3 separate regions of the Homo sapiens genome follow, and regions 1 and 2 are each linked to region 3. Evidence: fine-mapped expression QTL. A gene starts in region 3. Each other region holds a variant in brackets. All regions are shown on one strand. Distances are between the middles of the regions. Region 1 overlaps CRYL1 (crystallin lambda 1). Region 2 overlaps IFT88 (intraflagellar transport 88). Region 3 holds the start of CRYL1 (crystallin lambda 1).

Region 1 (9,604 bases), 42 kb after region 3:
CTAGTGAAAACTGCTCTTTAACTACAGTCTATCTTTATTTTATAGATTAAATGAGTGTATTTACAAGGCATGACATGTTGAGCCATATCTATTATGTAGAACACAGAGCCAAGCCGGATGAGGAGAGGAAACTAGAGAAAGATGATGTAAACTAGTAGGTTTAATTCCTATGAGAGTTTATATTCTTCAGAAATTGTTGTACCTCCAGTACCAGAGAAAGGAGTGGGTAGGAATAGTTCTGACCGGGAGGCTTCGGGAAGGTTTAATGCAGGTAGGATTAGAGCTTGTCTTGACTTTTGACAAGTGGATTTTGGGGTGGGGGTGGGAGGATTGTGTGGGAGGAAGAGATGAATGAGATGAGAAGTCCCTTTGAGGATGTTTCTAAGGCCACGTTACAGACCCATTGGAAAGGTAGGAAAGGCTGGTCCAAGGTGGAAACCAAGTCGCCATGCTACGAATGCCAACCTGAAGAATTACTTAGGTGAATTGAGTAATACACAGTGCTTAGAGGAGTACACGAAGAGAAGCACCATTTATGTGTTTCTTTAAAGAAATAAAGATGAAGGCTGGGTGTGGTGGCTCACGCCTGTAATCCCAGCACTCTTGGGAGGCTGAGGGTGGCGGATTGCTCGAGCTCAGGAGTTCAAGACCAGCCTGGCCAATATGGTGAGACCTCATCTCTACTGAAAATACAAAAACTTAGCCGGGTGTGGTGGCATGTGCCTGTGGTCCCAACTACTTGGGAGGCTGAGGTGGGAGGATTTCCTGAGTCTGGGAGGTGGAGGTTGCAGTGGGCCGAGATCAGGCCACTGCACTCCAGCCTGGGCAACTGGAGTAAGACTCCATCTCAAAAAACAAACAAACAAACAAAATATTATGAGACCTGAAGAAAAAATAATTATAAAAAAAATAAAGAACTAAAGGGTTTGGATTTCAATCTAAGTCCTGATTAGAATCCTGCAAGGAAGGTATTTAGTAGGAGAATGAAATGAATCAGAAGGAAAGATGAGTAAGAAAAAAGAATCAGCAGTTCATTTTTGCCAGTTAACTGATTTTCTTGGGCATGTTTACACATTTCTTTTCTTTTCTTTTCTTTTCTATCTTTCTTTTTTCTTTGAGATGGAGTCTGGCTCTGTTGTCCAGGCTGGAGTGCAGTGGCGTGATCTCAGCTCCCTGCAACCTCCACCTCCTGGGCTCAAGGGATTCTCATGCCTCAGCCTCCTGAGTAGCTGGGATTACAGGCATGTGCCACCACACATGGCTAATTTTTTGTGTACATTTTTTAATAGAGATGGGGTTTCACCATGTTGGCCCGGCTGCTCTCTAACTCCTGACCTCAAGTGATCCACCTGCCTCCACCTCCCAAAGTCCTGGGATTACAGGCATGAACCATTGCGCCCAGCCTACACATTTCTTTATATGATGTAAAGCAAATTTAATCCTCTGAATTTTAAAACTAGTGCATAGGCTGGGCGTGGTGGTCCACACCTGTAATCCCAGCACTTTGGGAGGCCAATGTGGGCAGACTGCCTGAGCTCAGTAGTTCAAGACCAGCTTGGGCAACATGGTGAAACCCCATCTCTACTAAAAATACAAAACATTAGCCAGGCGTGGTGGTGTATGCCTGTAATTCCAGCTACTTGAGAGGCTGAGGCATGAGAATCACTTGAACCCAGGAGGTAAAGGTTGCAGTGAGCCGAGATGGAGCCACTGCACTCCAGCCTGGGCGACAGAGTGAGACCTTGTCTCAACAACAACAACAACAACAACAAAACCTAGTGCATATTAGTGTCTCAGGTTTACCAAACAAACAAGTAAATGAAACCCCCAGAGTGAAACCTACCTAATGCTGCCCCACATGTTTGTTAAAGTACATTAGTGTTTCTAACACAATGTAATGTTAAACATGTATCTTACCTAATTAAACATCTCTGTGTTGTAAAGAAAGTTTAGGACAATCCTGTTTAGGTTCATTATTCCAAAAATACTGAAGATTTTTGTGTATTTATATGTTTCCACTTCTCCTGTTTATTTTCTCTCTTTCTAATACATTTGAGATTATACTGTAAATAGAATTTTGCATCATGGTTTTTATTTAAAACTTAGAACATTTCCTGCTGTACGATGTGCTCGGGGCTGTATCAGAGAGAAGTGGCACAATCTTGGCTCACTGCAACCTCTGCCTCCTGGGTTCAAGCGATTATCGTGCCTCAGCCTCCCAATTAGCTGGGATTACATGCATCTGCCACTACACCCAGCTGATTTTTGTATTTTTAGTAGAAACAGGGTTTCACTATGTTGGCCAGGCTGGTCTCGAACTCCTGACCTCAAGTGAGACATATAATTTTTAGACTTAAAAAATTGTGATAGTCACCATTTGATGGCAAACCTGAAAGAAGCTTCCGTCTAAGAATTCCATTAAAGCTGAGGTTCCCAAAGTCCGCAGCCTCTGCCGGGCTGCAACCACTCATCTGCTGGCAACCACTCACCCGCCCTGTGGTGCTGCCTCATCTCAGGGTCCACAGACTTTTTGCCAGTGGCACCCTCTTAGCAGCTCTCACAGCTCCTTTTTCTGATTTATACAAGGGAAGGTTCTCAGTGTAGAAAAATCAATCTAGGCTACTTGGAGACAGTTTTCTTTTTTTAAAAAAAATTAATTGCTGTATTTTGGCCAGGCGCGGTGGCTCACGCCTGTAATCCCAGCACTTTGGGAGGCCAAGGCGGGCAGATCACGATGTCAGGAGATGGAGACCATCCTGGCTAACACGGTGAAATGCTGTCTCTACTAAAAATACAAAAAATTAGCCAGGTGTGGTGGTGGGCACCTGTAGTCCCAGCTACCCGGGAGGCTGAGGCAGGGGAATCACTTGAACCTGCGAGGTGGAGGTTGCAGTGAGCCAAGATCGCGCCACTGCACTCCAGCCTGGCGACAGAGCGAGAAGAGGGCTGGATGTGGTGGCTCATGCCTGCGATCCCAGAACATGGGGAGGCCACAGCGGGTGGATTACTTGAGCTCAGGAGTTCGAGACCAACCTGAGCAACATGGTGAAACCCCGTCTCTACCAAAAATACAAAAAATTAGCATGGCATGGTGGTGCATGCCTGTGGTCCCAGCTGCTTGGGAGGCTGAGGTGGGAGGATCACTTGAGCCCAGGAGGTGGAGGTTGCAGTAAGCTGAGATCCCGCCACTGTACTCCAGCCTGGGTGATAGAGTGAGACCCTGTCTCAAAAACAAACAGACAAACCAAAATAAAAGAAAGACTGTACAGAGCTCTTTTAGAATGATGATGTGGTACGTTACAGTCCAAGTGAGAAAGCTGACTTCATGTTGATGATATGGTCAGTCCAGATGGCGTGAACCCAGGAGGCGGAGCTTGCAGTGAGCCGAGATCGCACCACTGCCCTCCAGCCTGCGCGACAGAGTGAGACTCCGTCTTAAAAAAATAATAATAAATAAAAAATTACTTGCTGTATCTTAATTGTACATATTTGGGATTCATGTGTGATTGATTTGTGTGTTCAGTGTGTCATGGTAAAATCCCGGTGTATTAGGATATCCAGAACCTCACACGTTTATCTTTTATTGTGTTGGGAACACTATAAATCTTCTATTTTGAAATATATAACATTATTAACTCTAATTTCCCTACTGTATTATTGAATGCTAGACCTTGCTCCTTCTAGCGAACTGTATTTTGTACTCATTAACCAGCTTCTCTTCATCGCTCCTTCCCCTTCCTGGTAACTGCCGGCTGCGGGTGTCCACCATTCTACTCTCTACCTCCATGAGACCCACTGCTTTAGCTCCCCTACATGAGTGAGAACATGGGATCTTCGCCTTTCTGTGCCTGGCTTACTTCGCTTAATATAATGATCTCCAATGCCATCTATGTTGCTACAGTTTTCTTATAAAATATGTTGCTGTGGTTTTCTTATAAAAAGAAAATTATTACTATTTAGGGAATTGTTCACAAGCAGGAGGCAGAGTTTGAGGAGACGCGTGTGTGCGTGCGCACACACACGCGCGCACACACACACACACACAGACTGCTTGCCACAATGCTTCAACTAAAAATAATCCCACTGTCGGATCTGCCCAGCCCCAGGGGGCGAAGCCCAGTAATGGGAGTGTGGTTTTCCCCAGTGGATTGTTTTCTACCCAACCCTAGAGGGCGGGGAGCCTGGGTCAGGACGTTTCCTAATACTCTGCTGAAATCCGGGAGCACGCAAGAAAGAAACCTGAATTTCTAGAACTTAGTGCAATTTTGAAATCAAATCTTGCCTGGCAAGAAAACCTACTGTTCTGGAAAAATAAGTTTACTCTGAAAAGCTGGTCTCAAGCCTTGACTTTTAAAGCACATTAAAGCTCATTAGCCACTATGTCGAGGCCTTATCTAATCTCTGGAACTTAAAACCGGAGATCACAGTAGCTGGTGGGAGCCATGGGAATGATTTATAGAGTTACGAAGTTTAAATGGGGTTTCCTTACACAAAGTCAGAACAATCTGCAATAGCTGAAATCGAGAAGTTAAATGGATATTGTCTATGTAGATGATCAGAATTTGCATCTCAACTATATCTTTAAAATGGAGAGAATGCTAATCATTTTGAAAAGGACCTTCAGACACTGTCAGTAATTACAGGAAGTAGCGTTCTTTTGGAAATTTATTTGTTTTCTTAAAGGATTGTTGGACTTTCAGTCTTGGTTCACTGAGACTCAGAATATTTCTTCTTTTGGTAGAGATGGGTGTGGGGGTGGGGGGTTCAGGCAGCATTGGACACATGGGATGGCCAGCCCTGAGAATATTCGGGAATGTGCGAGGAAACTGGAGTTACACTTTTTCTGTTGTATGTGTTTTTTCTTTTTCCTTTCGAGATGGAGTCGCACCTTTGTCACCCAGGCTGGAGTGCAGTGGTGCGATCTTGATTCACTGCAACCTCTGCTTCCCGGGTTAAAGCAATTCTCCTACCTCAGCCTCCCAAGTAGCTGGGATTATAGGCGCCCACCACCATGCCGGGCTAAGTTTTGTATTTTTAGTAGAGACGGGGTTTCATCATGTTGGCCAGGCTGGTCTTGAACTCCTGACCTCAGGTGATCTGCCCGCTTCGGCCTCCCAAAGTGCTGGAATTACAGGAGTGAGCCACCACGCATGGCCATACGTGTTTTTTTCTTTAAAAACTGTAAAATCAGGTTTACAAAGATATAATTTCCATACAAGAAAATTCACTCGTTTCAGGGTTCAGTGCTATGTGTCTGACAGATGCGTACAGTCACGTATGAAATCAGCGTCACAGCTGGGGTTCAGAGCATAGAGCCTCTCCTTCCCTTTGCAGCTAATTTCCTCCCACCGTTCCCCAGGCCTTGCCCACCACTGATCTGTTCTTTGTCCCTATAGTTTTGCCTTCTCCAGAATGTTATGTAAAATGGAATCATACATGATGCAGCCTTTTGAGTTTGGTTTCTTTCACAGAGTAAAATGAATTTGACGTGGCTTGTGTGGTTGTGTTGATTGGTAATTTGTTGCTGAGTGGTATGACATTACTAAGGTGCGTGGGACTCTGGATGGACTGGGGCAAGCCCACCTCACACACTCACGAGATCATCTGGAAGCACGAGCCTTCAGTTTTCACTTGCGAAGTGTGAAAACATTCTGTCCTAATGTTCTACTAGCTTCCTGCCACAGCCCTTACTTTTCTGATGGCTTGCTCTTGCTTTATTCAAATAGTGTGCTTACAGAACTGGGCACGAGGTCTTATTTCTGTGAAGCTGTATTTTTATTTATTTGCTTGGCTTTTTTTTTGTAGTATGTATAGCTTCAAAGATATAATATGAGCAAGTAATGAAAAATGTTATACATTCAAGAGACAGGCAAGTTTTTCTCTTAATCTGTAATTATGTATTTATCTTCTTCTGTGACCAAATAGGACTTGAAAAAATGCTAAGTCAAAACATAAGAAGGACAGTAAAATAAAGTCTTAGAAGAGGAGGGCATCCTCATTGCATTCAGTGTGCCTGCAGGTGAGGACTAAACATGGCCAGCATTGTGGGTCCCCGCAGCATCCACGAACGGCAGGTTATTGGCATGATTTGCGCTGGCAGGCCCTGCAGTGATGGACGAGGCAGTGACCTGCCTGTGTCTCAGACATCGTGGGACCTGCAGGAGCATTAGGAAAGTACTCCACCATGATTTGTTCTCTTTGGCCTCTACCTTGTGGGGTGGAGTATGAAGTTATGTGTGCTGGAGCAGAATGTTAGAAGGCAACAGGCTTTGATCTTTGCCAGGAAGCCTGGCTCAAGGTCAGCGTTAGCCTGAATTTCTACTTTACCTTTCAGTTTGGGCATTTTGGCTTTTCCCCCTTCACAACCACCTGCCAATGGAAGACGGTAATTTTTTTTTTTTTGAGACAGAGTTTCATTCTTGTCACCCAGGCTGGATTGTTGGCTCACTGATCTTGGCTTACTGCAACCTCTGCCTCCTGGGTTCAAGTGATTCTCCTGCCTCAGCCTCCCAAGTAGCTAGGATTACAGGTGCCCACTGCTACACCCGGATAATTTTTATATTTTTAGTAGAGACAGGGTTTCACCATGCTGGCCAAGCTGGTCTCAAACTCACCTCAGGTC[C/T]GCCTGCCTTGGCCTCCCAAAGTGCTGGGATTATAGACATGAGCCACCATGCCTGGCCGTGCATTTTTTCAAAGAAGTAAATGTTTCTTCTTCATAATGTCTTTAAGTCTGGAAGGCTGGGATCTAGCTGTGTTGCGATTTTGACTTAGGTGTTAGGGAGTGGATGGGGAGGTCACCTGGTGTGTTCTTGCAGCAGTGTAGGAAAATGTAGTTCTTGGTAACAGCTTGGTCCATGACTTCTTGATGAACTGTGTGCCGTGGGAGAGCGCAGGGGCAGCCCCAGCATCCCTGTCTCAACACTGACATACTCAATGCTCTGTCCCCAGGGCTGGGCCAGCCAGTTTTCCTTCCAGGGTTCTTTAGGACAGAAACCCTCCCTTTAAAAAATATTATCTATAAATATTAACAAAGTTTGCATGCTACAAAGAGGAAGACATGCCTAATTCAATTCCTCTAATACCCATTTGTGACATTTTAATATATTTACCTCCAGCCTTTTTTCCACATATAATATTTATAATTGTAATGATAGTGTGTCTTTATAGATACAGTGTCATATTCTACTTATATTAATCAACATTTAACACTTTCTAGTGGCTGTGTAAGAGTCTGTCAAGTGGATGTATCAACTAAGTCAAATATCACCTAGAAAATAATGATCTTATGGCTACTTCCAGTACTGTGCGATTGTAAGTTAAACTTGGTTGATCATCCCTCTATCTCATTCTTCCATGCTTTTTGTGACTTTCTTCAGGGCAAGTTCATTCATAGGGAATTACTAGATGTAAGCCCCTTTCCAGCTCTTGATAACATTTTGCTGAGTGGCATTGTAAAAATTGCCAGTACACCTTCAGGAGTCATGTGTTAGCACAGTTGGATTTCAAGCTTGCCAGTGTTGGGTCTGCTGATCTTTAAAGTGATTATTAAAGTGTTACTTGAAAACATTGTCCCAGTTTGCAACAACCAATGTGGCATCATCCCAACATCCACATTCTTAATTTGGTTCCTAAAATAGTTTTAACCCTAAATTTCCTCTAAACTTAAACGGAATCTCAAATCCCTATTTAAAAGAAAGATGGCCAGGCGCGGTGGCTCACACCTGTAATCCTTTACAGGTGTAAAGGGAGGCCTTACAGACTTGGGGAGGCCGAGGTCGGGGGATCATCAGGTCAGGAGATTGAGACCATCCTGGCCAACATGGTGAAACCCCGTCTCTACTAAAATACAAAAAAAAAAAAAAATTAGCTGGGCTTGGTGTGGCGCATGCCTGTAGTCCCAGCTACCTGGGAGGCTGAGGCAGGGGAATCACTTGAACCTGGGAGGCGGAGGTTGCAGCAAGCCAAGATCGCGCCACTGCACTCCAGCCTGGCAACAGAGCGAGAAGAGGGCTGGATGTGGTGGCTCATGCCTGTGATCCCAGAACATGGGGAGGCCACAGCGGGTAGATTGCTTGAGCTCAGGAGTTCGAGACCAGCCTGAGCAACATGGTGAAACACCGTCTCTACCAAAAATACAAAAAATTAGTATGGCATGGTGGTGCATGCCTGTGATCCCAGCTGCTTGGGAGGCTGAGGTGGGAGGATCACTTGAGCCCAGGAGGTGGAGGTTGCAGTAAGCTGAGATTCTGCCACTGTACTCCAGCCTGGGTGATAGAGTAAGACCCTGTTTCAAAAACAAACAAACAAACCCAAATAAAAGAAAGACTGTACAGAGCTCTTTTGGAAGGATGATGTGGTATATTATAGTGCAAGTGAGAAAGTTGACTTCATGTTGATGATATAGTCAGTCTAGATGGAAACCAAATTGTCCCTTCTGCTTTAAAAGTTGTAGGTTGTTAAATTAATGCCCAAAGTCAAAATAAGCACATATCTAATAGAAACAATTTTATAAAGTCTGTTAAGTAGAAAATATAAATATAAGCTAAGAAAATACTTTTTGATCTTATCACTAGGTTAAAAACATGATAAGCCCATTCAAAAGTGGTCATGGCATACATATTTAATGCTTGGAAACTAGTAAACACTTTAGCAACTATAATATTTGCTTCTAGTCATTTTTTCTAGAGTATTTTACTTTCTGCTGTTAGCAATGGGAGATGGTTATTTATGAAGACTGTTGGATACTGTGTGCTACACAGAATACACCATGGAGCCTGCCCATATATATTTTTATATACATATATATATATATAACTACGTAATATATATATTATAAAATGATAATATATAATATACTGTAATATATACTATAATACATATGGTAGTATTTATAGTATAGTATTATATATTATCATATAATATATATTATACTATCTATATACTATAGTATATTATATTTTAGTATAATATATAATAGAATACATAATGGAATATTATATATTATCTATTATACAATTATATATTATCTAGTATACAAAATAATATATAATATAAAAATAATTTTTTAAAATTTATTATATATATTTTTAATATATTTTTAAAAATATTTTTATATATTTAATTTTAAACATTATTAAATGATAATATGTAATATTAAATACACCATGGAGCCTGCCTGTATATATACCTACTGTGTGTCAATCTCTTACTATGGGCCAGGTCCTGTGCCGCCCATTTTATGCAAAATGACCCACTTCAGTCCTCAGGACGCCCATGTAAAGTGGGTGCTAGTATTTATTCCATGCCATGCCCGCTCTCCAACCCCAATCATTGTTGCCTGCACACCTCAGGAATATTTTTGATTGTTTTACCTACTGCTATTTCTCCAACACCTAAAACAGTGCCTAGTTTATACAAATATTATATATATATATAAATTAATTACTTAAGATTTTTAGAGTCAAGGTCTTGCTCTGCTGCCCAGGTTGGAATGTAGCTGTGTGATCATAGCTCACTGACGTCTTGAACTCCTGGGCTCAAGCGATCCTCCCACCTCAGTCTCCCGAGTAGCTAGGACTACAGGCATGTGTCACCACACCCAGGT
Region 2 (11,504 bases), 130 kb before region 3:
TGACCCACATAAACCTGAATTGGTTTATGTTCCTCTCTTAAGTTTATACAAATCTTTTTCCATTTTAAAACAATTTAAGAAAATCCACTGCCTGATATATTTTATGTCTACTTTTTCACCTCTTAAATTAGCTTCTATATCCTGAGTTGGTATTTGATCAAGGTAACCCTTCAAGGAGCATAAAGCCTGAGTGCTTCTCAAACTTTGGCGACAATAAAAATCACCTAGAAAACTTGTTAAAGCACACACTCACAGATTCCATTGTTGCAGAGAAGTAACTGTCTCTCATGGTCCACAGGACTTTCCAATTAAAATTATGTCTTCAAATTAACCTGTAAGCTATTTCATGTTGTGGAAAATTATAATTATTTGTCTGTTAGTAGCTATCCACTAAGATAATATGAAATCTATTGCACTTCCTCTCCCTGGGAATCCACTTTTGCCAGAATTTTATCCTCAAACTAGAGTTTTAGTTATTCCTCCTATTATGTCAGAGCAGAAAAAAATTTCAACTCTGTTTTCTTATAGAAGCTCCTAACATCACACATTTGAGCTATAGAAGGCTGACATTCTAAAAATTAACAGACTGCAGTTTGGGGCCCATATGAGATACCTGTTCCCTTATTTCTTTCATTTTTTCCAACCTCTTCAGTTTTCTGGCATATTCTTGAGCATCTTTTAATCCAAGATCTGTGCAGAGACGAACTAAGAAACGCAGACCTAAATTGTAAAATATACATTTAGGAAAGAATATAGGCACAGTATATTTGTTAAAAGCTCAATAAATCAGTGAACTCAGTCTTTTGGGATACAGGTAGGAATGATGCTTACAAATAGTATTTTTCTCCTGAAAAATAATTACACTTTGCAATCTCTGGACCAGGGAGAACTGACTTCCTTGGAAGGAGGTTTAAAGGGTCTCTCTCCATGTGTCCTGTCCTCACGCTGCCAGAACCTAGAAGGAACATGGCACAGGACACTGCTGGCAGAGAACTTAGAAGGCAAATGTAACATTTGTTAATGTTCTATAGCAGTTTCATAAATACATATAAAGAGCTATAAGAGAGACTAGGCTAAAAAGTGTAGACAGTTTATACATATAATAATCATTACTAATGTTATTACTGTCAGTAAATTCATTTTTAAATTAAGTATTATTCACACTGTGCAAAGCACTAGGAAGATAAAAAAGATGTATTTTACAGTGGCTGGTCTTACAGTTGACATCAAATATATACAAAATAATCACAATAAAAAGTTTTGTGTTAATCATGTCTTGTATACAATAACAACAACAAAATCTTCGATCACTTTATACATATCACCAGATGACATATTGTTTAGTTCTGCTTGCTATTGGGTCTTATAAAAATGGTATTGTTCTGTATACAGTCTCCTGGAATTTGCTTTTTCATTCAAGCTTGTGTTTCTAAAATTAGCAACATTTTAAAAACATGCAATAGATGCTAAAAAACACAATAATTTTGTCTTTACATTTGTAAGAATGGCCTTTGCCATTTGTGGTCTAAATTACTTTAAAATATTTTTATTATCTCATTTAAAAATAATATTTTCCTTCAATACAACTGCAATGCAGGTCATTATAGAGAATTTGTAAAACATACAAAGGTAAAAAACAAAAAATAAAAGTTACTCATTACTCATCCTTCCAGAGACATAGATGTTCATCAGGGATATTGGTCTAAAATTCTCTTTTTTTGTTGTGTCTCTGTGTGGCTTTGGTATCAGGATGATGCTGGCCTCATAAAATGAGTTAGGGAGTATTCCCTCTTTTTCTATTGACTGGAATAGTTTCAGAAGGAATGGTACCAGCTCCTCTTTGCACCTCTGGTAGAATTTGGCTGTGAATCTGTCTGGTCCTGGACTTTTTTTGGTCGGTAGGCCTTTTTTTTTTGTGGGTATCCTTTTTGTTGATGTTGATGCTATTCCTTTCTGTTTTTTAGTCTTCCTTCTAACAGACAAGCCCCTCAGCTGCAGGTCTGTTAGAGTTTGCTGGAGGTCTACTCCAGAACCTGTTTGCCTGGGTATCACCAGCAGAGGCTGCAGAACAGCAAATATTGCTGCCTGATCCTTCTTCTGGAAGCTTCGTCCCAGAATTAATCATTTTGGCTCTATTAAATATCTTTCAAATACATCTCCCGACATCATCCACCAACAACATCATTGCATTCTGCCTAAATTCCTGCTGTACGATTTAGGTAGGGCATTTGAAAATCTAGCTGTATCACATCCAGACTTGCAGCCAACCCTCCTGTTTTCAGAAGCAGCCAGCACCCCTCCCATTTTCTGATGCCTCCAATTCCCGGGATTTCCTGGGGTTCTATGTCAAGAATTGTTTTGCTTCTGCTGACGTCTCCACTACCTACATACCTCTGCAGTTCTTCTAATCTGCTAAGCAGAAAACATTCCTAAAATTTAATTATCTCTTTGTTCTTGTACATTTATAATTTTTTTTTTTTTTTAAGATGGAGTCTTGCTCTGTCACCTGGGCTGGAGTGCACTGGCGCAATATCAGCTCACTGCAACCTCTGCCTCCTGGGTTCAAGCAATTCTCCTGCCTCAGCCTCCTGAGTAGCTGGGATCACAGGTGCCCACCACTATGCCCAGCTAATTTTTTGTATTTTTAGTAGAGACAAGGGTTTCCTCATGTTGGTCAGGCTGGTCTTGAACTCCTGGCTCGTGATTCGCCCGTCTTGGCCTCCCAAAGTGCTGGGATTACAGGCGTGTGCCACCGCACCCAGCCGCATTTATAGTTTTTATAAACTGTCTTTTTTTGGTTTGTAGTATAAGAAAACACATCTTCAATCTGCTACATTTTCCACAATAGACTACCTTTTGAAATAGACTCTGCATCCCTCTAACTCTGCCCTTACTAATGCTACTGTCTACCTGCAGTGCCTGTTCCTGCCTTTCCTTCCTGGTAAAACCCTCCGTACCCTTCAAGGCCACTTCAAATGTTACTTCCTCTGTAAAACCTAATTATGTCAATCGTCCCCTAGTTTGGGCAGAGTTAAGAGATCCTCTGTATTTTGACAGCACTTTGCACATTTTTCAGTTATCTCATTTATTAACCTATATCAGTTAACTATTTGTGAGTCCTAGGAGGCAGAAATCAAGTTGATATATCTGTTGTATCCCCAGCACATAAAAAATAGTTGGTAAAAGTTCTGGGGAACAAATGAATGGATAAAGAAACAGGAAAGTCTTAAAGCTAGTGAACACTCCATTTTTTCAAAAGTATTACTGATAATATATATAATAACAGAGCACAAAAATATGTGCTAAATATACTGAAATAAATTTATATGAAGATGGCCCCCAACTTCTCCCTAAGTGCCTATTTAATACATCCTCTTGGACATCGAAAAGGTAGCTCAAACACAACATATCTAAAAAAAGGTTTTGATTTTTCCCTCCAAAAGCTGCTTCTTCCCCAGTTTCCTACATCTCAGTGGATGGCATCCTTCCAGCTCCCAGAGCTATATTTGTGCAATTACCCTTGACACTCTCTCCCTCAAGTCTCACATCTAAATGGCCAGCAAGTGCTGGCACTGATACCTTTGATACATATTCAGAATCCATCCTGCCCACCTCCACTGCTAAATCATTAGTCCAAGTGAATACTGTGATTTTGCATTTCGGTACTGCCCACTCCAGCTTATTCTCCATACAGCAGCCAAAACAATCTTTTGATTTGGACCTCAGGTACAGAAGCTTGAGTTAATCACACTTTAGAACCTTTTGAAAACATATGTCAAATTGTATTATTCTTCCACACAAAATCCTCCAATGGCTCATCATCTCCCCAGAAATATAATTTGAAGCCCTGACCTAAGGCCTGTGAGGATCCACAGGTCCTGGCCCACCCACTCTGCCTCTCTCTCCCCATCACATCGTCCACTGTGCTTCAACCACATTGACCTCCATATCGTCATGGCTTGCTTCTGTCTATTCTTTCAGGTCTCTGCTCAAATGCTAATTTAACAGAAAGCCGTTCCATGACAACCCTGTCTCAAATACCAGCCCCTCCCACATTCTCTAGCTCCTTACCTGTTTTGCCTTCATAGCACTTATAACTACTGACATTATTTGTTTATTGTCTTTTCCCACTAGAAACAAGTTCCACGACATCAAGGATTTTGGTCTCTTTTGTTTTCTGCTACATCCACAGTGCTAGAACAACGTCTGGAACAGAATAGTCACTCCACTCCACAATAATTTGTAAATATACCAGCAATTTAAGACCATTAAAGTAGACCAGGCGCGGTGGCTCACGCCTGTAATCCCAGCACTTTGGGAGGCTGAGGCGGGCAGATCATGAGGTCAGGAGTTCAAGACCAGCCTGGCCAAGATGGTGAAACCCCATCCCTACTAAAACTACAAAAATTAGCTGGGCATGGTGGCAGGCACCTGTAATCCCAGCTACTTGGGAGGCTGAGGCAGGAGAATCACTTGAACCTGGACAGCAGAGGTTGCAGTGAGCCGAGATCGCACCACTGCACTCTAGCCTGGGTGACAGAGTGAGACTGTGTCTCAAAAAAAAAAAAAGACCATAAAGTATTGTAAAAGTTAATAGTATAAAGTAACTTAAAATGTCACACATTACTATAAAAATTGCATTTGCATATACATTTATATTAATAATTCAGAATAAGAAGGTAATTTGTACTTTCTGCAAATAAAGATTGGCTTAGGAATTTTTTTTTTTTAAGAGATTTAGAGATGCCCAGGCTGGAGTGCACTGGCACAATCACAGCTCACTGCAGTTTGGAACTCCTGGGTTCAAGCGATCCTTCC[A/G]TCTCAGCCTCCCGAGCAGGTGGAACTATAGATGCACACCACCATGCCCTGATATTTTTTTCATATTTAGAAGAGTTGAGGTCTTGCCATGTTTCCCAGGCTGTTCTTGAATTCCTGGGCTCAAGCAATCCTCCGGCCTTGGTGTCCCAAAGTGTGGAGATTACAGACATGAGCCATCACGCACAGCCAGAAACACTTAATGTAAAGTAAAAATCATTATTTTTGGTGGATGTTCTCTGAAATTTAGTACATCATCTGTAACTCTGTAAAGCAGGTCAATTTTTGGTGAAGAATATGTTTTAAAACTAAATTATCCTGCTAGTTTTATCCAGAAAACTAGTCTTCTTAAAACAGCACATTCCATGGGTGTAAATGTTTTTTCTACAACTACAGTTAAGGTAGACTATTGATTACATTTGTTTTGAAAATTAAATAGGCCAAAGTTATCTTAGACACCCTCTATGGCATAGACAATCATTCATTTGATTCTTAGAGTGACTCATACTCTAAAGAAAAAAACCTGGCCTTCCTTGAAGACATTCGCTTTTCCGGTCCGGTGCAGAGGTGCTATGGTTACTTCAAGAGTTCTCAACTGGCATCAATTTTGCACCCCCAAGGGACACTGGCAATGTCTAGAGACATTTCTGGTTTTCATATCTAGGGGTGAGAGAGCTACTAGCTAATCTATTGGACAGAGGCCAGGGATTTTACCAAACATTCCATAATCCCCTGGATGGCCTCCCACAATGTGGAATTGCACAATCCCAAATGTCAAAGGTGCCAAGGCCGAGAAACTCTTGCCTAGCAGACTTTTGGGTTGTTCCACTTTCAAGAAAAGTTATTACTGCTATCTCTCATTTAATCTCTAAAGCACTAGTTCTCTAATGTGACTGAGATTAAGAATCACATAGAAAGTTCTTTAAACAGAAATAGGAAAAAACAGACGCCTGCATCCACTGTAAATCTAAATGAAAATCTTTCTAGGTAGGGCTAGAAATTTGTACTTTAAAAAAGTTCTAGGCCGGGCATGGTGGCTCACACCTGCAATCCTAGCAATTTGGGAGGCTGAAGCAAGAGAATCGCTTGAAGAGTGATTTTGTTTTTAGTAGAGCCCCCGTCTCTACTAAAAACAAAAATTAGTTGGGCATGGTGGCGTGTGCCTGTAATCCCAACTACTAGGGACACTGAAGCAGGAGAATCTCTTCAACCCAGGAGGCAGAGGTTGCAGTGAGCCAAGATGGCGCCACCGCACTCCAGCCTAGGAGACAAGAAGAAAACTCCATCTCAAAAAAAAAAAAAAATTCTAGAATTAATTCCCATGTAGCCTATTTCCTGACTGGTATTTGTGAAAACTACTGCTGTTAAGTTAATGAGTCTACTTCTAATCAGCATTGGAGAACACCCTGCTCCTACACTCCTACCAAAGACCATAACTGAGCTAACTGCTGTTGAGCTTTTTTAGAAAGCCAAATGGAGAAATATATTAATGAAGAAACACGTAGTACATCTAATCCTTGGCCATTAGAAAACTTGGCTCAGAAAAGATTTGTTTTTACTAAATTGTAATGCATTCTTTTGTGTTCATTGTCATTGAAGAACAAATTTATTTATTTATTTATTTATTTATTTATTTATTTTGAGACAGAATCTCGCTCTATTGGCCAGGCTGGTCTTCAACTCCTGACCTCAGGTGATCTGCCCACCTCAGCCTCCCAAAGTGCTGGGATTACAGGCGTGAGCCACTGTGCCCAGCCTTGAAGAACAAATTTTAACATGGTCGTTTCCAGCATATTATTTTATTTGCTATAGGGATGTTATTTAAGAAAGTATCTACTGTGTCTTTCAATGATTTTATCTACTGTATCTCTCAATGTCTAAACAGAAGTGAATTAAGAGTTGAAGAGATACTTCTTCTTCCCAATAAATTGCTTTATATTTCCACATAAAACAGTAAAAATTGTACAACTGCTTGTAACTTTTCTCTTTCCTTTGGCTGCAAGGCTATTCAGGGACAAATTTATAGTTTAGTGAGAACATGTGGCATATGACTGTGCTTACTTTATGTTTTTCTTGATTTTGTTGTTACTGCCATAATACTTCACATTATTACTGTAAGTTGCATCAATCCACTGTGCAACAAGATAGTAAATAAATGAATATCTTCTACAAAGATAACTTTACAACTGAGTACGCAGCATATTAACATAATGTTTTAAAATTGAAGTAACATTAAAAATTATTTGCCGCCAGGAGCAGTGGCTCACGCCTGTAATCCCAGCACTTTGGGAAGCCAAGGTAGGCGGATCACAACGTCAGGAGTTTGAGAACAGCCTGGCCAACATAGTAAAACCCGTCTCTACTAAAAATACAAAAATTAGCCAGGCACGGTGGTGCGCGCCTAGAGTCCCAGCTACTAGGGAGGCTGAGGCAGGAGAATCACTTGAACTCAGGAGGTGGAGGTTGTGGTGAGCTGAGATCACACCACTGCACTCTAGCCTGGGCAACAGAGCAAGACTCTGTCTAAAAAAAAATTATTTGCTATTGTATCAGCAAGATTATTAATGTTCAGTTTTTATAAACCCTAAAATTATTTTCTCAACCTTTAGAAGTTGTTTACTAAAATGGACAGTTAAAAATGTCTTTCCTATAAAATACCACAGGTTTACAAACTTTGAAAAATCAACCATAGGCCAAAATGCTTTCTTAAAATTCTATAGAACTCTGAAATATGTATTTTTTTAGTATTAAAGAAAATTCTGTGGTATATTTAAATCCATCAACAATTAGTTACATAAAAATATGTACTTGCATAGTCAAATTTTCTGATGCTATAAAAATATTTAAAATATGTATCACAAATTATAGGTTGGTATTTACGTATACAATTACTGTAGCAAAGGTAATTATATATTAGAACATAAAATATGAGAACTTATCACTTCAAAGTTACATTATGTAATGCCACTTACATTCGACATTTTCTGGAAATTTTCTGTGAGTATCTTTGTAAGTATCTAATGCTTTTTGGTAGTTACCTATAAACAAACAAGAGAAAAATATATTAGCAAATTATAGAAACTAACAGGATTCAGAAAAATATTAATTTTAACTGATATACTGGCTATTTAATGGTTTAATAGAAAGGTTTCATGTTTTATATACCACTTAATATAACTTTTAGAAGAAAATGTATAGATAAAATAAATTTGAAATAAGGCTGAAAGCAGAAGTAAATGGGTGATAGCTGAAATTTAGCTTCTTCCTTTTTTTTTTTTTTAAAGAGACGAGGTCTCACTCTGTTGCCCAGGCTGGAGTACAGTGGCTATTCACAGGCACAACCATTAAGTACTACAGCCTATAAACTCCTGAGCTGAAACAATCCTCGTGTCTTAGCCTCCAGAGTAGCTGGGACTATAGACGCACATTGCTGAGCCTGGTTCACTTTAAATATTTTAGTGGCAAAAATTAAGATCCATTCAATTTTCTAAAAAAGATTATTCCAGATGAACTGACAAATTTAAAAATAATCTAAGTTATATACTTACAGTAATGTCAATGTCATTCATTTAGTTGGAAAATATTTAAGATGTTTTTATAGTTTTTTTGGGCTGGGCGTGGTGGCTCACTCCTTTAATCCCAGCATTTTGGGAGGCTGAGGTGGGTGGACCACTTGAGGCCAGGAGTTTGAGACCAGCCTGGGCAACATGGTGAAACCCCTTCTCTACTAAAAATACAAAAATTAACTGGCCATGGTGGCACACACCTATAAACCCAGCTACTGGGGAGGCTGATACAGGAGAATCGCTTGAACCCAGGAGGTGGAAGTTGCAGTGAGCTGTGATTAGTGCCACTGCAGGCCAGCCTGGGTGACAGAGTAAAACTCTGTCTCAAAATGAATGAATGAATGAATGGATAAATAAATAAATAAATGTGTGGTTTTTTTTGTTTTTTTTTTTTTGAGATGGAGTCTTGTTCTGTCACCAGGCTGGAGTGAGTGCAGTGGCGCAATCTCGGCTCACTGCAACCTCCAACCTTCGCCTCCTGGCTTCAAGTGATTCTCCTGCCTCAGCCTCCCGAGTAGATGGGACTACAGGCGTGCACCACCAAGCCCAGCTAATTTTTGTATTATTAGTAGAGATGGGGTTTCACCATGTTGGCCAGGATGGTCTCGATCTCTTGACCTCGTGATCTGCCAGCCTCAGCCTCCCAAAGTGCTGGAATTACAGGCGTGAGCCACTGTGTCCGGCCTTTACAGTTTTTTAAACATTAGAAAGTTTATAGAAAGCAATTTATTTTATAACAAAATAATTTAGCTTCATGTAGCAGCCAAAATAGGAAAAACGAATTTGGGTCAAAGATCTTTCCTAAAATCTTAGCAAATGAGTTATAAATCTCTCTGGGCCTCTCTCTACAAGAGGGATGAAATAGAGACAGGAAGCATCTGACCCAAAGCCAGTTCTCAATGCTAGCTGCTGCTTCTATCCTGTACTTCCATAACTGAAGCAGGCTATGTCTTTAAATCATTTAGAATAGTTCATATGTATATATATACTTTCTATATGACTGACGTTGAAATGAACATAGGCAATTGAGAACTCATGTTGATATAAATTGAATGTATATAGTATAGTCATGTTGTACATTCAATAGGAATTACAGATCCCCCCTAAAATGATTTGAGGAATACACTGAGTTATGTATTAAAACATTTCTGATGCCATTCTGAAGGTGCTCACAGAGATAAAGAAGGAAACCTCCCCCGAAACTGGGTGAGAACAAACTGCCAACACTTTCAAAACTTGTGCTTCCCTCTTCCCTTAGATTGAATACTTTCTTTTCCTGGGTCATTTTTATGCTCTACAAGAGGGATTATAAATTTGTTCACATTTCTCTCCCAGCTTGATCTTTGATATTTTATGCATATTATTCACTTCACAGTTAGCCTAAAACTAATAGCATCTCTATCCTTCAGGATATGTGTCATCAGCAAGAATTTAATAAAAGCAGTAACAAAAACACAAACCAAGATAGCCAGTGATCTTTGGTATAAAAAACATATAGTCACACTTGTCTCAGTGTGAGCTTTTCTCAGGCTTCTCAAGTGTCATAAATTTGGCCGAGCACACAGGACATTTAGAATTAACTGAGTAGAAAATGGAAATATAATGTATACAGTATGCCTATTTTTTTCTGTGGCTAACTTGTGAAAATGATTACATGTTAACTTTGAGAAATAACAAATCTGTTTTTAAGACAAGTATTGGAATACATGATTAATACCCATTTTGTAAGCATAACTTTTTTGTATGTAGTAATTATTGTGTTTTTCATACAATGCTTTGAATTATGTACAGTTATAAAAAGTTAGTATTTTAATAAACAGATATGCAACTGGATCACATTTATATGCATAATTACCTAAAAGGAAAGAAGCAAAATATCTATAAAATGAATAAAACTAAAGCATTTACCACTTCTTCTGAAACAACTAGCTACCATCAGCTGCCATTTCACTTGTGTAGGCCTATAAAATAAATAAATGAGATGAAATTAGAGATAAAAAAATCTGTGATGCTCAGTTTTATAAAGCTATGTATCTACTATTTTACAATTACTTTTTGACCTTTTGTTAGATAATTTTTATTATTGAGAACAGCAGATATATAATTTCCCTCAGTATTGCTTGTCATATTTATATCAGGACATATAAATTTAAGTGTTCTTCAAAGTTCCTCTAGTTCATACCTTTATTTAGATATTCATATGAGAACCACTTAACCTGTTTGGTTAAAACCCACTGCATTCTACTTTAAACTTAAAGGATCATTACTTTTGCTATAATCTTTTATCATAATACTTACACTTGCTTGCAAATTTAGTACCTGAGAAGCGATTTTTGATCTAGTGTTTGAAGAATCAGGCTTCGACTAAACAGAGAGTAAAAAAAATTCTACTAATCCCTTTTTGTCCATTAAAAAGAAATCAAATTCTTTTCTAAAATAAATAACCAAAACCAGGATTTCTAAATACTTCTATTAAAAATATCTCAGGATGGCAAGATATGAAGGAAGAAACACCTAGGGAACAATTTATGCTCGCCTCATTTTTTTGAATCTCCTTTCTAAGTAGAAGCCTGATGGCTTCAAAGAAAACCTCAGTTCCTACTCGATTTGATGGCAAACCTACCTACTGGAATCAGATAGATCTGGCTTTAAATCACAGCCCTGCTACTGGGGCAAGTTACTTAACTTCAAATCCATTGCCTACACGGCCACCCACTGTGATCTAAATAAAATACACATCTAACCACATTACTTCCCTCCTTAAAACCTGTTACCTCCCTTCCACCTACATGCTAAATCCAAGATTCTAACCCAGTTTATCTACTTTCTAGATCTTTTCTGCTTCTCCAACTCATCTCCCACCGTGCCTTGCTTAACATTTCATGTTACAGCAAATTCACACAGGAGCACGGACTTCCCTGTATCCCCTGCATTTGCTAGACTTCTGGCTTTTGTATACACCACCATGTCTGCTTAGAGGCGCATTCCAACCTCTTTACTCTCTGCTAATGCCACATGGATAGACTGTTCCATATGCTCTCCTAACACCCTAGAATCACTTAGTGTTGCATTTACCATGTGGTATTATTATTTATGTTTCTGAATACATTACCTTCCTTCCTC
Region 3 (8,541 bases):
TTTCACTAAATTGCAACAGAGGTTCTGCACTTGGATGCTGACAGAAGTCACGAGACTCCTGGATTAAAAATAAATTATCTTATTACAGTAAAAGCAATAGCCAGAGTGACACCATATTTATATGGGTTCTTGGATCCTTAATTCCCACAGGGTTACATAGAGGGCCAGATGACTCCTGTGTTTGCAACGAGCAAGGGCCCAGCACTTTTTGCTTTCTTTTTTTTTTTGAGATGATGTCTCGCTCTGTCGCCCAGGCTGGAGTGCAGTGGCGTGATCTTGGTTCACTGCAAGCTCTGCCTCCTGGGTTCACACCATTCTCCTGCCTCAGCCTCCCGAGTAGCTGGGACTACAGGCGCCTGCCACCACGCCTGGCTAATTTTTAGTAGAGACGGAGTTTCACCGTGTTAGCCAGGATGGTCTCGATCTCCTGACCTTGTGATCCGTCCGCCTCGGCCTTCCAAAGTGCTGGGATTACAGGCGTGAGCCACCGCGTCCAGCCACTTTTGCTTTCTTTTGAGACAAAGTCTTGTTCTGTTAGCCAGGCTGGAGTAGAGTGGCAAAATCATAGCTCACTGCAGCCTTGAACTCCAGGGCTCAAGAGATCCTCCTGAGTAGCTGGGACTACAGGAATGCACCACCACACCTGGCTAATTTAAATAAATCTGTATTTTTTTTGTTTGGTACCAGAAGGATTAAAGTTATAAATATATGTACACATAAATAAATAAATATATAAACACACACACACACACACACACACACACATATATATACACACACACTAGAGATGCGGGGGGGGGGGTTCTCACTATCTCGCACAGGCTGGTCTCAAACTCCTGGCTTCAAGCAATCCTCCTGCCTCAGCCTACTGAGTAGCTGAGACTACAGGCGGCACCAGCCTGGATAAGTTTTTTAATTTTTTGGTAGAGACAGGGGTCTCGCTTTGTTGCCCAGGCTGGTCTTGAACTCCTGGCCTCAAGCTATTATTTACTACTCAGCTTCCCAAAGCGCTGGGATTTCAGGCATGACTTTGCAGGGAGCAGCAAACAAGCCAGTCTGCTGCCCCCATAGCCTCCGGTAGTGAGCAGTCACAGGATGCTCACTCCCTGGGTGCCTTGATTATTATATTGGCTGCCTGTGTAACTGACTACAGAAACTGCTCCATCAGAAGATGGAAGCTTTGGAGCCTTGTATTCTCAGCCAGAGCAGGCGCGGTTGCTCAGGCTAGCGGCTGTCTCAACAATGTACTGTAACATTCCCTCCAAAAAGTCCTCAACATTTAAGCTTGCCTTCTACTGTGTGTAAGTTGCATGTCCGAAACACTCCATTACGGATATGGGAATATAATCAATCCATGTGACTTAGCCAATCTGATGAGTGAGAGATGACTTATCTTCCTTGTGTTACTTTTCATTTCTCTTGAGGTTGAATACTTTACAAATATTTATCGATAATTTGTGAAACTGTTCTTTAAAAAACAAAACAAAACAAAAAAACCTAACCCCTCCCCTGAGATTTCTCTTTCCACGTTCCTGACTCAGGGGAAACAAAGGAAGACTTCCTTTTATCATCTCAGTGTTGGCTGCGGTTCCAGCTTGAGTACTGTCTCCTCTGTCTAATGACTGTGTCATTTCCCGTTCAGCTTGTGCTGTGTGGACGCACACCACTGTCAGGCAATGTGTGATGCCCCTTCCTCTTGGTCTGTTCCGGGCTCCAAGAAGGCCAGGAGTCAGGGCACGAGGGCATTTCCTTTTTCTGATACATAAACCGAGTGCAGAGTGTGCTCCGTGGAGGAATTCAGACGTGTCCTTCCGTAGCGCAGATGAACGCATCAGGTGTTCTCTTTCACTGCTGTCGCAGTCCCTGCGCCCAGTTCGCAGTTGGCGGCAGCGGCAGGCGTCTTTCAGAGACGAATTAGCAAAGGGGACATTCTCTGACAGTTTCTCTAGGGTGCTTTAGCGCTAGAGCCCGTGCCAGCCTGCCCGTGTCCCCTCCTATAGACACGGACTTCACGGTGAATGCTGACAGTCACAAGCGCGTGGTCTTCCCGCTTTCCACCCCCCGACGTGCCCCCGCGCTGGTCCTGCCCCTGCCCACGAGGGTCGGCGCGCCGTGTGTCTCCCGGTGTCTCGGGCCCGCGGCGCGCACCCCACTCAGGGACCAAGCGGCCCTCCCCGCCCTCCCGGTCCGCGCGCGCAGCCAATGGGCGCGGGACCCGCCCTCCCCGGAGCCCAGAGCTCGCAGCTCCGCCGGCGCCTGGTCCCAGCGCCCGCGGCGCCGCGTCCCCGGCCCAACCATGGCGTCCTCCGCGGCCGGCTGCGTGGTGATCGTTGGCAGGTAAAGGGCTCCGAGCCGCGCTGCTGCCCCTGGAGCCCGGGGAGACGCCGGGGACGTGGTGCCCTCGCGTGGGGCCCTCGGGGTGGGCGCCGGGTCGCTGTCCCCGCCCCGGCCTCCGGTCCTCCGAAGCCCTGCGCCCTGCGGCCCCTACGGCGCTGGCGGGCTCGGGGAGAGGCGCGGCTGGAGGGGCTTGGCAGGTGGAGGCGCCCCGCGGAGTTGGGTCTGCTTCCCGGGAGCCAGCGTTGCAGGAGGTTCCGAGGTTGACCGCCCAGGCCGCGGGGCCTGCGGTTCCTGGACTCTGTTGAATGTCGCCGCGTCTGCCCGCAGGTCCACATAGAAGTGCCAGGCACCGTGTTGAATGAAACGAATTCTGGCTGCGATCCTGCGACGACTGTGTTCTCATCCCCATTTTACGAATGAGAATACTGAGACTAAGCAGTTTACCTAAGGTCACAGGCGTTTAGTGACGGAGACAGGACTAGCCCAGCAGGGAGGGTGCCAGCGCAGTCCTGTCGGCGACGATGTCGCTGGAGGCCGCAGCAGGTGTTAGGCGAACATACACGCAGTCCTAATTCCTGGGCGAGGCGATGTTTCCAGAGGGGAGGTGGGGGCCGATGGAGCCCAGAGAGTTTGCTAAGTGTGTCCATTTAACAGCTTAAATTCTGCCCAAACTGATTTTTAGTGTGTGCTTCCCCCACCCCGCCCCCCACCCCTACGGTTACAATCCTTGCTATTTTTGTTTTTTAAAAAGGGGCATTTGTATGTACCTTTCTTTGGCCAGCTGTTAGCAGCAATCTATAAACATGTTAATACTTGCTATTGATAGTTAAAAGCACCTTTTTGGTGACTGCTGTTGAGGTGTTGGCCTGCCCCCGACTCCGCCCCCCATCAGTGTACAACCCGGTGTGGAGACCACTTCCAATGTCAGGGTGTTTCCTTCCCACTGAAGGAAGGCATCAGATTCCTTGTTGTCAGCTTTCTTTTCTCCAGAGCAGTGGAGTTAACTGTGCCTTTGTTCTTTCTGGCCCATGAGTGCCCGTGGTTGAATAGTGAAGGCATATTAAAAAGTGCACTTTGGGCCGCGCGCGGTGGCTCACCCCTGTAATCCCAGCACGTTGGGAGGCCGAGGCAGGCGGATCATCTGAGGTCGGGAGTTCGAGACCAGCCTGACCAATATGGAGAAACTCCGTCTCTACTAAAAATACAAAATTAGCCGGGCGTAGTGGCACATGCCTGTAGTCCCAGCTACTCGGGAGGCTGAGGCAGGAGAATCCTTTGAACCCGGGAGGCGGAGGTTGCGGTGAGCCGAGATGGTGCCATTGCACTCCAGTCTGGGCAATAAGAGCGAAACTCCGTCTGAAAAAAAAAAAGTGCACTTTGTACCAGTGGTGGTAGTTACCTCTGTCTTGCATTTTATTAATAGTTACCAGAGTTTATGTGTGTGTGTATATATATACACTCACACATATATATACACACACAGTTTTTACACGCATGCGTGCGCGCACGCGCACACACACACAATTTTAATAGGATAGGGTCTCGCTCTGTCGCCCAGGCTGGAGTGCAGTGGCACTATCATGGTGGATCTCCACCTTCCGGGCTCAAGCCATCCTCCCACAGCAGGCATGTGTCACCATACCCGGCTGATTTTTAAAATTTTTAGGTAGAGATGGGGTCTCACCATCTTGCCCTGGTTGGTCTTGAACTCCTGGGTGCAAGCGCTTTGGCCTCCCAAAGTGTTGGGGTTACAGTTGTGAGCCACCTTGCTTGGCCTTGTATAGGTCCATCATGCCTTGGAGTAGTGTTATGCATGCACCTAATACATGTGAAGTAAAGTTTTAGTTGATTGTGCAGTTATCTGGCTGTGGGTGGCTCAGTCTACTGAGGAGGAGCTTCAGTTAACAGTTTACTTCTGATTCCTTGAGGGATGTTGATAAGGAATTAGAGAAAGGCTTCCAAACTTTAAGGACCACATAATTCTCTGGGGCCTCTGCTTGTTTCTTTGTTTTCTGGTGTGAAAATCTTGTCTTTCCCCCACCCTCAGCACTTCAGCACACACCCAGCTCTGCCTCTGGGACAGTGCTGGTTTCTTCCCTTCCTCTTTACCACCCTTCTTTCTCGTCCCTCTATTTCTTTCCTGGCCCCACAGGTGATTCCAAGGAACACCCACTTAACAAATAGGGCTTGGGGAATGTCAATTAATTTGCCAAAACCTGGTTCAGTTTCATTCTTAGGTTTCAACAGACCAAAATATACATATTTCAATTTCAGGAGCATATTGTGTTTTCAGCTTTCCTTATCAGTTTATAGATTTCATCTTGAAAGTACCTGCTAGGAATACAGTCCCACTTAATTCTTTTCCGCTGATCTTTTTCCAAAGTTCACTCTTCCTTAGGGCCACTTAGCTGTCCTATAAACATCCAGGGCAAGTCCCTTCAGAATGGGGAGGGCTTGAAAGAGGATGAGAGAAACTCTTTTGGGCCTAGGGCTGCAGGAAAATCTGGTAGTGATAACTTTTAAAAATGGGAGTAGAAGTCCAGGCATGGTGGCTCATGCCTGTAATCTCAGCACTTTGGGAGGCCTAGGAGGGCAGATCACCTGAGGTCAGGGGTTCGAGACCAGTCTGGCCAACATGGCGAGATCCCGTCTCTACTAAAAATACAAAAATTAGCCGGGCGTGGTGGTGCATGCCTGTAATCCCAGCTACTCAGGAGGCTGAGTCAGGAGAATCGCTTGAACTCAGGAGGCGGAGGTTTCAGTGAGCCAAGATCACACCACTGCACTCCAGCTGGGGGATAGAGTGAGACTCCATCTCAAAAAAAAAAAAAAAAAAAAAAAAGTAGAAATGGGTATCATGAAGATAAATTTGCATTGGAGTAGTGTTCTAAGGCTTTCATTTTGTTAGCCTTACCTTTATAAAACACTGTGTTTCTAAATCGCTAAAATATGAGTTCTGTATTTGTATACACACTGCAAGATTCAGCTTGTAGCCCTTGAGCTTGTTTAGAATAGGAACACAAAATGTTCCTGGTGCAGGGCATGCCCTTTCTCCTGTCCTGCTTTTTAGGGGGCACACTCTTTCAGGATCAAGCTCAGGGACTGTCTCCTCCAGGAAAAGTTCTGCTTCTGGGCCTTTCCCCTAAGGATAGAAACTGTATTGTTGCCATTTGTATCCACCATGCGTGGTCCCAATAGACAGATAGTTGAGCGTTTGTAACAGAGACTGCTTATTTTTTAACTGATGTGCCCTATGAAGGGCTTGGTAGGACGTTGTTTTATATCAAGAAAAACATCCCATAAACTAGAAAGGCAAGAAAGAAAGGTATCCTATAAACTACAGTCTCCTTCATTTTTTTTAATTCCAAAATTTTGTTTGGGGTGATTGTACTTTTTTTTTTTGAGACGGATTCTTGCTCTGTCAGGCTCAGGCTGAAGTGCAGTGGCACCATCTCAGCTCACTGCAACCTCTGCCTTCTGGATTCAAGCAATTCTCCTGCCTCAGCCTCCCAAGTAGTTGGGACTACAGGCACGAACCACCATTGCTGGCTAATTTTCGTATTTTTAGTAGAGACAGGGTTTCTCCATGTTGCCCAGGCTGGTCTCGAACTCCTGGCCTCAACTGATCCGCCCACCCTAGCCTCCCAAAGTGCTGAGATTACAGGCGTGAGCCACTACACCTGGCCTGTGCATTTTTTATAAGAAACTTTCTGAGGCATGAATTTTCTTTGAAGTGCTATTCTAGGTATTTTCCTGCTAATTTTTGTACACATACACAGCAAACCCTAGGATGCCCTCCTTGCCTTTTGAGTCAGCTTAGACACTAAATGTGCCCTTCGCAGGAGTTACTTAATAGCTCTTTCTGGCAAAATTTCCATAGTAGACTGAGATCATGAGTGTAGGAACAGTTTTACTTCAATTTTTACCCAGTAAATAAGTAACTGTAGCTGGAAAGATACTTTCAAATGTATCTAAAGTGAATTTATTCAAAATTAAGTGACATTAATGATAGAATTGAAGCAATTATATCACTTTTCTCCCCTGCTGCTTTGCTACTGTGTAACAGAATAAATGTTCATCTGCATTCACCTTTTGTAGTACCCATTAAGATTCATGAATTCAGAAGCTTTAAGACATGTCGCAATAGTCACAGTGGGAAGGGCATTGAATTACCTCTATCGCTGGCTCCCATTTTGAGGTCCCCAGGCATATAGTGGTTGGAAAAAAGGCCAATAAGATGTCACAAGCTCTCAGGACAGGAAGTTAATTATTCTTGGGCCTGATGTAAGGTAGTATTGGGGAACAATACTGAGGGAAACCTGAAACAGAAACCTGAGGAAAACCAAGCCAGGGAACTTTCTAGCTCTGGGGCCGTGCAATCTGGTCCCTGTGCCTCTCTGTAGCTTCCTTTGCTCTGTAGATTCCCTCTCCTTGTACTTGCTCACTTTTCTTTCCTTCCCTGTGACTTTATCTTGCACATCACTGCCAACCCTAAGGTTATCCTCTTTCAAGTATAGTGCCTCTTACTGATTTTTTTTCTGTATTTTGGGTCCAATTTATTTCCTTTCTTTCTTTCTTTTTTTCGTTCGTTCGTTCCTTCCTTCCTTTCTTCCTTCTTTCTTTCTTTCCTTTTTTTTTTTTTTTTTTTTTTGAGACGGAGTCTCGCTCTTTCACCCAGGCTGGAGTGCAGTGGCGTGATCTCCGCTCACTGCAACCTCCGCCTCCGGGTTCACGGGATTCTCCTGCCTCAGCCTCCCGAGTAGCTGGGACTACAGGCCCCTGCCACCACGCCTGGCTAATTATTTATATTTTAGTAGAGATGGGGTTTCACCGTGTTAGACAGGATGGTCTCGATCTCCTGACCTCGTTATCCACCCACCTCGGCCTCCCAAAGTGCTGGGATTACAGGCGTGAGCCACCGTGCCCGGCCCGGGTCCAATTTTCAAGAGAGGAAACCCAGTGGTTTCACCTCTGTGCATCCCAGGCTGCAGATGTTATAGGGTGCTCCTAAGCCAGTTGATTGGCTGCTTTGGGTCAGGTGTCCAATCCATGTCCAATCAGCAATGACTGAGTGTGTGGGCGTGAAGGGGTGGGGGAAAAGACACCAGCTGGTCCCCAGGGGTCAGCGGTCTGCTGTTGGTCCTCTGCAATGAAGGGGCCAATCTCAAGACTGAAAGGGAAGTGGGGCCCAGTCCAATCACCTGATATTTGATGCCAGAATCCTGGCCGATGGTTACCCTCCCTCAGGTCAGATAATTGCGATTCCAAGGATTTGCTGCCTGTTTGATTAGGGGGCTGCCTTTCCCTGAGCAACAGCAGCGGGGTAAGACCCAAGCCATGGAGGCAGGTGCATTAGCCCCAGACCAAAGCACCATGCTCCCTCCCTCATGATTGCTTCCCCTCTCCAGGGTTCAGACCCCGCAGCCAGCAAACATATAGTTGTTCCCTGAAAACAGAAAAGCACCCTCTCTTGACCCCATTTTTCCCTCTGGTAATTGCCACATTGCTCCTCAAAACTTAATAAACTTATCCATATTGTCTCCAGTTTCTTTCTTCCTATCCATATTCTCTCTCTTAACTTTGTGTTAGGGAAACATTTCAAACTGTGTTAAAGTTGAGAGAACAGTGCAATGAACCTTAAAGTACCTTCCCCCACCCCCTCAACTTCAACAATTATTAACACATGGCTAATATGGTTTCAGTTATTCTCCCTTCTCTGGATTGTTCTGAAACAAATGCCAGGCATTGAATCATTTCGTCTGTAAATATGTCAGCATGTATAGTATCTAAAAGATATGGACTGTTTTAAAACTATATAACCACAATAGCATCATCATGTGTAAAACATTAACACAATTCCTTAATATCTTCATGTAATATCTTTAAATATCTCTTCCATATTCAAGAGTTCCCTGATTAATTTTTTAAATACTTGGCTTGATTGATTTAGGGTCTAAATAAGGCCCACATGTTATATTTAGTCAATAAGATTCTTAGCTCTTTCAATCTATAGATTGTTCATCCCTCTCTGGTTTTGTAAAATTTTTCTTGCCGTTTATCTACTGAAGAATTTGAGTCATTTGCCCTGTAAAATTTCCCATATTCTAGGTTTTGCTGAATGTATCCCTTCCCTCCCCTCCCCTCCCCTTCCCTTCCCAAGATGGGGTCTCGCTATGTTGCCCAGGCTGGTCTTGAACTCCTGGG

What was found. PIP is the estimated chance that this variant, and not a neighbour inherited with it, causes the effect.
Region 1: its variant is fine-mapped to the expression of CRYL1 in whole blood (TOPMed, PIP above 0.99).
Region 2: its variant is fine-mapped to the expression of CRYL1 in whole blood (TOPMed, PIP 0.96).

The regions. Positions count from the first base shown.
Region 1 is chr13:20,477,181-20,486,784 of GRCh38, reverse strand. The region is part of intron 3 of CRYL1 (crystallin lambda 1); the gene reads left to right. Among named protein-coding and RNA genes, the nearest start is that of CRYL1, 44 kb to the left of the region's middle. The variant C/T (reference allele first, on the strand shown) is at 6,623.
Region 2 is chr13:20,652,714-20,664,217 of GRCh38, reverse strand. It overlaps IFT88 (intraflagellar transport 88), which reads right to left. Exons shown (of 26, transcript NM_006531.5): 21 at 10,290-10,342; 22 at 7,788-7,853; 23 at 614-720. Among named protein-coding and RNA genes, the nearest start is that of IL17D, 45 kb to the left of the region's middle. The variant A/G (reference allele first, on the strand shown) is at 4,819.
Region 3 is chr13:20,519,550-20,528,090 of GRCh38, reverse strand. CRYL1 (crystallin lambda 1) reads left to right here and starts at 2,234. Exons shown (of 8, transcript NM_015974.3): 1 at 2,234-2,337. The coding sequence starts at 2,297. RefSeq lists an enhancer at 1,719-1,828 and a silencer at 2,009-2,558.